2 separate regions of the Homo sapiens genome follow, and region 2 is linked to region 1. The links come from fine-mapping of genetic effects on gene expression. Tissue or cell type: esophagus mucosa. Region 1 holds a variant in brackets; the other region holds the start of a gene. All regions are shown on one strand. Distances are from middle to middle.

Evidence for each region. PIP is the estimated chance that this variant, and not a neighbour inherited with it, causes the effect.
Region 2: FOXP4 starts here. The variant in region 1 is fine-mapped to the expression of FOXP4 in esophagus mucosa (GTEx, PIP above 0.99).

The regions. Positions count from the first base shown.
Region 1 is chr6:41,602,483-41,607,626 of GRCh38, reverse strand. No RefSeq gene overlaps it. Among named protein-coding and RNA genes, the nearest start is that of MIR4641, 6.3 kb to the right of the region's middle. RefSeq lists an enhancer at 4,262-4,556. The variant G/A (reference allele first, on the strand shown) is at 2,843.
Region 2 is chr6:41,543,849-41,548,992 of GRCh38, reverse strand. FOXP4 (forkhead box P4) reads right to left here and starts at 2,612. Exons shown (of 17, transcript NM_001012426.2): 1 at 2,126-2,612. It overlaps FOXP4-AS1 (FOXP4 antisense RNA 1), which reads left to right and starts at 372. Exons shown (of 2, transcript NR_126415.1): 1 at 372-615. RefSeq lists silencers at 1,296-1,445, 1,736-1,915, 1,986-2,665, 2,996-3,265, 4,308-4,602 and an enhancer at 2,816-2,925.

The sequences.
Region 1 (5,144 bases):
GAAACTATTCTGTCCTAGGGCATCAGAAGCTTCCAGTTGCCAAGTCCATGGAAGCAGCTCCCAGGCCTCGAATTTTGGGAACCCTTTGGCCTCTGTCACAGTGAACCCTCAGGACTGCCCTCTCTTGTGGTTCTCCTTCCTTGCCATCCCCGGACTATCCCCACCTTCCTTTGTGGCCACATCTCCTGCCCCACCACCAGATGTGGGCCCAGATGTGCTTTGCCAATTTCCATCTGTCCAGTCCTGGGCATGGGAGCCACTTGATGTCCTGCCACCCCTGCAAACCCCTTTAACATTTTATCTTTTCCCTTGCTTGTCTTGAGCCCACAGGGGCTGAGAGGATAAGAATTATTCCTGTGGCACGGACCCCAAATCTTGGGGCCATTCTTCTTTTATTTATTGATTTATTTATTAAATCCCCCCTTTATTTATTTATTTATTTATTTATTTATTTATTTATTTATATATTTATTTATTTAAAGGCAGGGTCTCACTCTCTTGCCCAGGCTGGAGTGCAGTGGCACGATCTCAGCTCACTGGAGCCTCCGCCTCCCGGGTTCAAGCAATTCTCCCACCTCAACCTCCCGAGTAGCTGGGATTACAGGTGCGCCCGGCAAATTTTTGCATTTTTAGTAGAGACGGGTTTCACCATGTTAGTCTGGGTGGTCCCGAACTCCGACCTCAGGTGATCTGCCCACCTCAGCCTCCCAAAGTGCTGGGATTACAGGCATGAGCCACTGCACCTGGCCCATTCTTTTTTTATTTTTAAGTGAAATATTCCAGCCACAAAAAGGTACAGAGAAGAACAGATTTAACCTCTGTGTTCCCACCACCCAGCTCCAATACTAACCATTACCAACAGACTTGAAGCCCCTTGAATACTCCTCCCCATTGCATCCCCCTCCCCAGAGTGACAGCCACCATCTTGAATTTGTTATTTATCATTCCTACAAATTATTTAAATGTTTGCTACATGTGTGCCCATACATGATATATAGAATTATTACATGTTTTCAAACATTATACAAATGAGAACAGTCTCTATGTATCTTTCTTCAACTTACTTTTTTTTTTTTTGCTCAAATTTACCCTGCTGATGGGAGCTCTTTATTTATTCTCTTTGCAATATAATATTCCATTGTCAAATGTGCCACACTTGATTTCCCTCTCTCCTGCGAATAGACATTTAGGAAGACCCCGTTGAGCTCGTTCCTGACCTCCTTTCTCTCAGGTAGCCAACAGCCCCTCTTTTACTCTGTTGTTTTGCAAAAAGCCTCCTGACACTATTTTCCAAAGCAACCCCCCACCCTACTTAGGCCTTCATCATCTGTCACCTGGACAATCCCAAGAGTCACCTAATTGGCTCCTGTCACCCTATATGGTTCCACTTGGCCTATTCCCCCAATCTCAGGTCAATCCTGTTACTTCTCTGCTCTAAATGCCCCTGTGGGCACAGCTCCCCCAAGCCCCAGCTTGGTCCCCAGCTTGACCTCCGGGGTCCTCCCCTGTCTGGTGCCTGCCTTTCCACTATCACCTCCCAGTAACCCAGTCTCCCTGTCCAGCCTTCCTGGCTGTCCCCAGGTGTCCTGCCCAGTCCACCTGTGTGTTTTCAGCTATCCCCTGCCTTGCAAACTTTCCTGCTAAGTCGAATCTCTATGGCTCTGCTCTGCACACCTCTGAAGGTCACAGCACCACTCACTGGCCCCTGCCACACCTGTGAAGTACCTATTTAAGTCCAAGACAGTCCCTCTGTGGATGGAAACTCCCCAGTGGCATCAACAGCAGCAGCAGCATCGCCACTTACTGGCATTAGCAGGTGTGGGCATGCTCATGCCACCAAGTCGGGTAATTCTCCCCTTAACCTTCTGAGTAGTCAGGGAGTCCTAGGGCCACTTTATAGGAAACCACACCCCAATTCACCTGCCCAAAGCCCAGGGCCAGTCAGTTGGTAATGACAGGGATGGGGCCAGGTTTCTTTTTTTTTTTTTTTAGACGGAGTCTCGCTCTGTTGCCCAGGCTGGACTGCAGTGGCACAATCTCGGCTCACTGCAAGCTCCACCTCCCGGGTTCACGCCATTCTCCTGCCTCAGCCTCCTGAGTAGCTGGGACTACAGGCGCCCGCGACCACGCCTGGCTAATTTTTTGTATTTTTAGTAGAGACGGGGTTTCACCGTGTTAGCCAGGATGGTCTCCATCTCCTGACCTTGTGATCCGCCCACCTTGGCCTCCCAAAGTGCTGGGATTACAGGCGTGAGCCACCGCGCCCGGCCCCGGGGCCAGGTTTCTAAGACCCTGTTGACCTCCTTGCCTCGGCCTCTGTCTCTGCTGCCTCCATTTAATTTTTTGTTTTCTTCCACATTAACCTTCCCTAAGCTCCATCTCAGTTCCCCTGCAGGCCTAGAATGTTCTTTCTTCTCCCCTCTTTCTACCCAAATTTCCCCTCCTCAGCTCCAGAACTCTTCCAGGGAGTCTTCCAGGATACACTGGTCCCCAGTAAGCACTTAGGTCCCTCTGAGCCCCTATGGTGACTGGCACCCAGGACTCCATTTTATTAACAGCCATTATGTATTGAGGGCATATTATGCACCAGACATCTTTTTTTTTTTTTTTTTTTTTTTGAGACGGAGTCTCGCTCTGTCGCCCAGGCCGGACTGCGGACTGCAGTGGTGCAATCTCGGCTCACTGCAAGCTCCGCTTCCCGGGTTCACGCCATTCTCCTGCCTCAGCCTCCCGAGTAGCTGGGACTACAGGCGCCCGCCACCGCGCCCGGCTAATTTTTTGTATTTTTAGTAGAGACGGGGTTTCACCTTGTTAGCCAGGATGGTCTTGATCTCCTGACCTC[G/A]TGATCCACCCACCTTGGCCTCCCAAAGTGCTGGGATTACAGGCGTGAGCCACCGCACCCGGCCCAGACATCTTTTTATATATCATTAATCTTCTCAACAAGCCAGTGATGTAGAGATTATTACTCCACCCCATTCTACAAATGAGAACTCTGAGGCCCAGAGAGGTCCAGTGGCTTTCCCAATGCCACAGACCTGGCAAGCAGCAGAGCCAGGATTTGAACCCTTGTGTTTACTCCCTCACAGCACATGACAGTCGGCTGATCTCCATCTGTTTCCCAGCCAGAGAAGCAGCTCTCAGAGAACAGAGACCCACCCTGTGTTTCTCTGGTGACCACCCACCCTTACCCCCTGTACCTGGCCCACTCCTGGAGCCCAAGCATGGTGGCCTTGTATAGACAGGCCTGCATTCCAGGTCCCAGAGCAGGAGAGGCCCTCGTGGGAGGGCCAGGGCCAGAAGCCCAGAGTGCCAGCTTGGTTACCCAGCCCACCACTGCACTGTCCCTGTTAATTCAGCCAGTCTTCTGAAGGTTGCCAGCCCCCACGCCCTGTCCCTGGCCCCTCCTGGCTAGGACAGAGGGCCTTTCAGCCTGGGCTGCCACCATGACTGCCTTCTCAGGAGGGGCTGTTTTTCTAAACTTTTGATCCTGAGGCGGATGCAGACTGCAGGCCAGTGAGGTGTCGGGGGTTCTGTGTGGTGGGATGTCCCACCCTGGGGGTCCATTTCTGGTCACCTAGAGATGACTGCAGATGGAAGGGACCTCTGGTGTCAGTATATCGGGTAGTAGCATGTGCATGTGTGTGTGAAGGTGTGTGCTGTGCATGAGGGGTGTCATTTTAAAGTCCCCACCACAGACAGGGGGATCTTTGTCTGCACTGCTCTGCCTCACCGTCCCATCAGAAGGGCCCCTGTCTGATTATTTTTATAGGGTAATTCAGACTTCTCTGCCTCACTCTGTCCTTCAGTGACTGTTTCAAGATCAATTTACCTTATTCTGCTTAGAGTAGAATGGCAGCTGGGGAACTCAGAAGCCAGGGCCTAATTCCCAGCTTCGAGGCGCTCGGAGCCTCATTTCCCCACTCGGAGCCTCCAGAGAAGGAGGGAAGCAGCGATCACCAAAGTAAATCGTGTCACTAGAAAGCAGGGGCAAACCACAGGGTCTCCCTCTTCTCTTTCCCCACCGTCAGCCACAGGTTCATTTTTTTTTTTAAACCCAGAACCCGGATTGCTCATCTGCAAAGATTCTTTATTCTTAATGCTTTATCTGCTCATCTCTTTGACTCTGCCTCAGTCTCTTCATCTATAAAATGGGGATAATAATACCTAACTCAGAGTCGTTTTGGGGATGAAATGAAATATAAAGCTTCTAGGATAGTGCCTGGCACATAATGAGGGCTCATTAACTGTTAATAATTATTACTATTAAAAACAGGTACTGAGCCCTCCGCTGTACGGCGGCTGGCATTCTCAGGGAAGTTGTTCTGTGCCCCGGAAACAGGCAAGTTTGTCCAGAGGAGCCGGTCTGCTTTGTTTAAAGCGCCCTCTGCTGACCATCGGCAAGAAGGCCTTGGGCAAGGTGGCGAGTTCATGGTGGGGGAGCGAAGTGCTGAGTGCCAAGGGGAAGGGGGACTTCTGTCGGATGCAGAGCGCAGAGCGCTACTTATCCCACCCCTAAAACGTCCGGCTTGGAGTATTTCTCTTTTTTTTTTCCCCAGGTTCCAAAGATAGCTTCCCCAACAGGGCTCAGCAATGCTAAGACCAGGACAAGCTGCCAGCTGCAGTTAACAGCCTACTCCCTGGCTGTGAGTTAACAGTAGAAAGGAGAGAAGCTACATACCCAGCATGCAGCGCTTCCTGAGGCAAAGCGTGATGGGGGTTGGGGGTGGGGTGGACATGTTGGTTCATACTTCGAATAAGGTAATAATTGTGGGAGGGCTGCCCCATGTAGGATGTCAGATCAGGAAGAAAATAAATTACTGAGTCTATAAGCCCAATGCACCCAGAAGGTGGTGGTTCATAACAGCTCTTGTTTCTTATATTGCAAGACCCTCTCCTGTACCAGTGTCCAAAATAGATCATCACCCCACCTGCAAATGCACTGACCATTCACTATATCCCTGTGAGAGGAATAAAAAGAGGACTCTAGTTGAAGCAGGAGAAACTGAAGTTAGACCGCGGGAAGGACGGTCCTGAGAATAAAGCTAGGTGCAGTCTTGTCCCTCCAGAGTCTGGCATAGGAAGAATGCCCCCGGGGCTGGTCCACAGAACTGACTACTTCTTCAAGGGGGCAGAGTAAGGGGGCT
Region 2 (5,144 bases), 59 kb after region 1:
CAACTCACAGTTTTTTGAGTTTCAGATCGAAAGGGCACCATGGGAGCCAACAAGCTGTCCAGGTACCAAGAGCAGAGCCCCAGTATCCTCCCTCCAGCCACCAGGTAACAGAGCCCCAAAACCCCGAGGCAAAAGTTTCTCAAGTTGAAAAAAAAAAAAAAAAAAAAAGGCCTTCAGACTTCCCCACAGCGGTTTTCCGCGGGGGCGGGCAGAGGTTTTCTGAGGCCGTGGCTCCCCTTCAGGCGGCTGGGTCCACTGGGCCTGGCCTTCGGCCCCTGCACCTACCGGCTGGTTCGCAGCAGGGGGAGGGGGTGGGGGAGAGCTCAAAATGCCCGGTGCCCGCAGGGCATGGCGGTCAGGGGGCCCTTCAGCCCTGGTTTTCTGTGGAAAGTGAGCTTCTGGGTTCGACAGTGGGACCGGCACAGACCTTCCCGCAGCTACAGGCCATACGACAACCCCGCTGCTCTTTCTTTCTGCGGGCACTCGGGCCAGTCCTAACAATTGCCCCTCAAGCTGTGTGTGCTGCCCTAACCCTCAATCCCGAACCCGAAACAGTGCGTGCTGGGACGAATCTAGGCAGGTCTCCGAAACCGGGGTGAAGATGCTGAAGTTCAGGTAAAAACCCGCATTGGCCAAAATGCTCCCGGGCTTTCTCGGGAGTCACCCGAATGGCAACTTCAGGCTCGGGTTTGGTTCTCCGGACTCCCCACCCCTATTCCCGGCTCCAGGCGCCGCGGTCAACCTGCGGGGAGACTAGACGTTGGGGTGCCAGACACGCGGTGATCTCCAGACGCCCGAAACGCCAGGCGCCGAGTGAGCGAGGAAACCAGCCGGGAGGGGGCTGGCCAGGGAAGCCGGGGAGCAAAGGAAAGAGCGGGGCGCGCTCTGGGCTCAGGGTTCCCATACCCTTTCCCCCCAACCTAGGATCGGGGTGGGACGCAGGTGTGTTCACGAGATCGCCCCAGTTGGGGGACACAGGGAATCCGCCGCCGTCTGGGCCTGTCTCAAAATCCGCATTCCGCGAAATTACCCGGTCCTTTATGGGGGCGGCCGGGACCCCAGGTCGCATTCTAGCGCCACTGGCTGTGCTCTGACGCAGCCCAAGGAAGTTTGTTTGGCGTGGATGAGGAGCCCGAGGCTGAAGCGCCGCCGGTCAGAGAGGTGCTGGGGTTGTCCAGGGGAGATACCAGACTCCTCAGTTGGGGCGGGGGGGGGTCCTGCTCGGTCACTCCGGGCTCCTTCCCTGGTGGCCTCCGGGCCCCCGTGGCCGCCCTCTCTTCCCCCCTTAAGTGGTGAAGCGGGAGCTCTCTCCACAGCGGGTGAGTAGAGGTGTCAGCCAGATCGTTTCCCCACCCTCCACCTCCGGCGCACAAATCACAGGGGCCATTTCCAGACGCTCTCAAGTCCCCAAGAAGTTTTCCGCTCTATCCCCGAGCTGACCGAGCGATGGAAAAGGGGCTGACTGGCCCTGGCACTTCCGAGGTGCGACCTCAGCAAGACAAGTCCCCTCTTCACCAGAGACGACACGGCGGGTAGGACCGCGATCCCCCGCTCTCTTGCCCCCATTTTCATCTGTCTCCGGCGCGTCCTGGGGAGTCCGGTACCGACTAGAGTTGGGGGGAGCCACTTCCCTTCCCAGCTCTGGAAAGTCTGGGCCGGGAAGTATTCTTTGTCTGACTCGGGGCGGGGAGGGGGTCGCGCCCCCGTACACCCCATTCCCAGAGGCCCGGCGGGGAGGGGGCGGGGCCCAGATTCTTGGGGAAGGGCGGGCCTCGGTGGCCTCTCCGGCCGCCCCCCTCCCCGCCCCGGCCTCCGGCTGCCCCCACTCCCGCCGCGCCACAGCCCCCACCTGTTCCCGAGGCAGCTCCGGCCCGCTGGGGCCCGGGCCAGGGGCGGAATGTCGCGGCTGCGCGGGGTCAGTGCGCCACGGCCGGCCCTGGCTGGAACAAAGTGCGCCGGCCCGGGCCCGGCTCCTCCTGGCGCCCGGCGCCCAGCGCGTCTCGGGCGGGCAGTTTGCAAACACAAAGTGAGCCAGCGAGCGGGCGAGAGAGTGCGCGAGCGAGGGAGTTGGTCTGGTCGCCCGCCCAGCCCCCACCCACGTCCCTGGGCCCGACCCGCCACCTACCTGTCCCGCCCGGCCGCTCCGTGCGGGCTCCGGCCCGTCAGCCCGCGCGGGGCATGGGGCTCGCTCCGGTCGCAGCCCGGGCCCGCCGCCGCCCGCCGGGGCTGCCCTTCCGCGCCGCCCCGCGTCGCGCAGCTCCCGGGCGTCCTCCCAGCGCGCCGGGCCGACCGCCGCGCGCCTCAACCCCGCCGGGGCATGGCACTTTGTGGGCTGCTTGGCTCGCTCCGGCTCCGCTCTTCCTTCCCGGTCCTTCCGCGACGCTCGTCAGCTCGCTCCGGCTCCCGGGCTCCCGGACCCCGGCGTCCCCGCCCCCGGCCCAGCCCTGGTTCCGGCCCGGGCTCCTCCCCGCCGCGCCGCCGCCGCCTGCGCCGCGCCCTCCTCGCGGGCTGGGGGCTCCGTCCCGGCCGCCGGCCGCCGGCCGCACTGTCCGGTCCGCAGGGACGGCGGGCTCCGGACTCCGAGGGGCTGCGACTGAGCCTGGGCTGCGAGTGGCTGCGAGCGGGCGGCGCGCGGGCGGGGCGGGAGGGGGCGGGGGAGGAGGAGGGTGGAGAGGGAAGGAGGGAGCGCGCGGAGAGCGAGGGAGGAGGGAGCGAGAGAGCAAGCGGCGGAGGGAGGGGAGACCAACTTCTAGTGCTACCATAATTCGCCTAAAGCAGGTGCAGCAACTTTCACCCCGCCTGGCAGCCCGCTGAGAGCGAGAGAAAACCACGTGCACCAAACTTTAGGGGAGGAAAAATGGGAACGTGGGGAGAAGACGTGAGGCGGCAGATCTGAAAAAGATGGTAGGTGGAGGGACCCCAGGGATTCACCCTGGCCTCGGACTAATCCTATGGGGCGCTTGCAAACCCCGGCCATCCCCTGGAGTCTGAAGGTACGGCCAAGTCCTGATCCCACACGGTTCACTGGTTCCCGGCGGGCTGCGCTCGGCGCGGGGAGTGGCCGGGGGCCCAGAGACGGAGCCAGTGTCAGGCCCGGGCCCTGTCTGGCCTCCCTCCTGCTCCCCACTGCGTGGGGGCTGGGGGTGGGCTTCCTGAGCCGAGGGTAGAAGGTGGGGAGGCCCCTTCAGGGCTTTGTGAACGGTCACCCCCTGGCGCGCACTGCCTCCCTCTGCGGAAAGGGAATTTCCCGTAAAGTGCTCTGCGAACCAGTGAAGAAGGGGCCCAAGGCCAGAGCCATGCGGGCAAAGTGAAGTGCAAAGTTGAGGCAATTATCCGGACAAATTAGATTGTAAACAAAACCCCGCGTCTCTGAACATCGCTTTTGCCCAGGGGGACTGGAGGGATTGTGGTGGTGGCGGCGATGGTGTGTTTGGGTTGGGAGGGGGAGGTCTGGGTGAGGAAATGCCCACGGCCCAAGGGGGAGGGCTGTGTTGTTAGCAGACGCACCACTCAGAGTCCCGTGGAAATCTCAATACCCGTCCCCCTCCCCGCCCCACACACGCCGGAAACATCTCCCATCTGTCTGCATGTGTTGGGGGTGGGGAGAAGTGAAGGAGGCCTCAGGGGTCCTCATGAAGTACCCCAACCCAGCTCAGTGATGCCGGGTCCCCATGACCAAGGGAGGATCCTGTTGTGGGATCAGGACAAGAAGACAGTGGCTCTTGAAGCCTCTCCTGGCCCTAAATCCTCAGGCAGGTGGACAAGAGGCTGGCATAGTATGTGAGCCCCTGTGGAGTGGGAGCTGGAAGCCTGAGGTGTGGGGTCGGAGCTGCAAGGATTGATGCTTAGTTGCCTGGGGGGAGGGGATTTCTTGGCCGTTCCAGTGGTCCTTGAAAGAAAAGGGGACCTCAGAGAGGAGGCACCCTCTTGGGTTGTTTTTCATCACTTCTGTCCCTTTTCTGCAATGTTAGTGACACCTGCACAGGTCCACATTTTATGTATTTGCCTTTTTGGGCAGGTGGGACAGGCATACTTAGGTCCTGCTGGAGCGTTTTAGATTTCTAGGTGTGAAATTGTGCAGGGAAGACTCTAAGTGCCATTTATGTGGATATCTCAGTGTCCTTTCCAGTGTGGCAACTGAGATAACCATAGCCATAAGAATAAAATAACAGCTAACATCTGAGTCGTACCACCCACCAGCCATTTAATCTTCACAGTAACCCCAGGAGGGAGATATTTGTATTATCTCCATTTTATAGAAGAGGAAACTGAGGCACAAAGAGATCAAGTAACTTGCCCAGGCTTACACAGCTGCTGGTCAGTGATGAGCCAGATTCCAACTAGAGCCACTTCAGTGAGGACAAGAAAGAAGCTCATGGTGGTCTCTGAAGCGACACTGCCTGCTTGTGGGTTAGCTGAGGGGAAGGATATTCTGGGAGAAAGAAAGCCCTTGGTAGTACTATCTGATTTACCTTCTGTTGAGGCCCAGCTCTGGTGGAAATCATGGTGTGTGGACAGCCCTAGGCCAAGCCTGGAGTGGCAAGTCCTTGTGTCAGACCAGCTGGGCCAGTGACTATGTCCTCAGTTCTCCTTCCTATCCTTCTTGCAGCAAAGGCTGAGGGTGGGGTGAGAACTAGGGGCTTTGGAGACAAAAGAGAGAATTTCTGTAGGGGGGTATTGAATGAGGTGACCTCCGAGGGGCTTCTCCAGCCCTTTTCTGGCTGGTTCACTGAATGTTTTTCCCATCCCCTTCCTGCAGCAGCCCTTGTACCTTACACATGGGCTCACTTGCCCAGAGGGATTGCCCTGGGAAATGCTTCACTTTCAGTTCAGTTTACCCCTCATCTCCAGGCCAGTTCAGTTCCCAGCTCCCTGTGAGCTACAGTGGGGGCTCAAGGCATCAAAAGACCCTGTCTTGTCTTCACCTAAAGGGCATTTTAGCGAGGAAGACAAAGCCTCCCCAAAGAAAGATACAGAACAAATGCCCCGAAATCAAAGAAGCCAGTCCAAAGCCCTTCTTCCTGGTGCAAGAGCTTCGTTAAGAAGGTTGAAAAGAGTAGCCCTTGGCTCCAAAGTGGGAGTGACCGGGAGCAGGCAGGAGGGTCCTCTTTCTGTCCTTGTTCCTTCACAGGACTCAGGGCAGG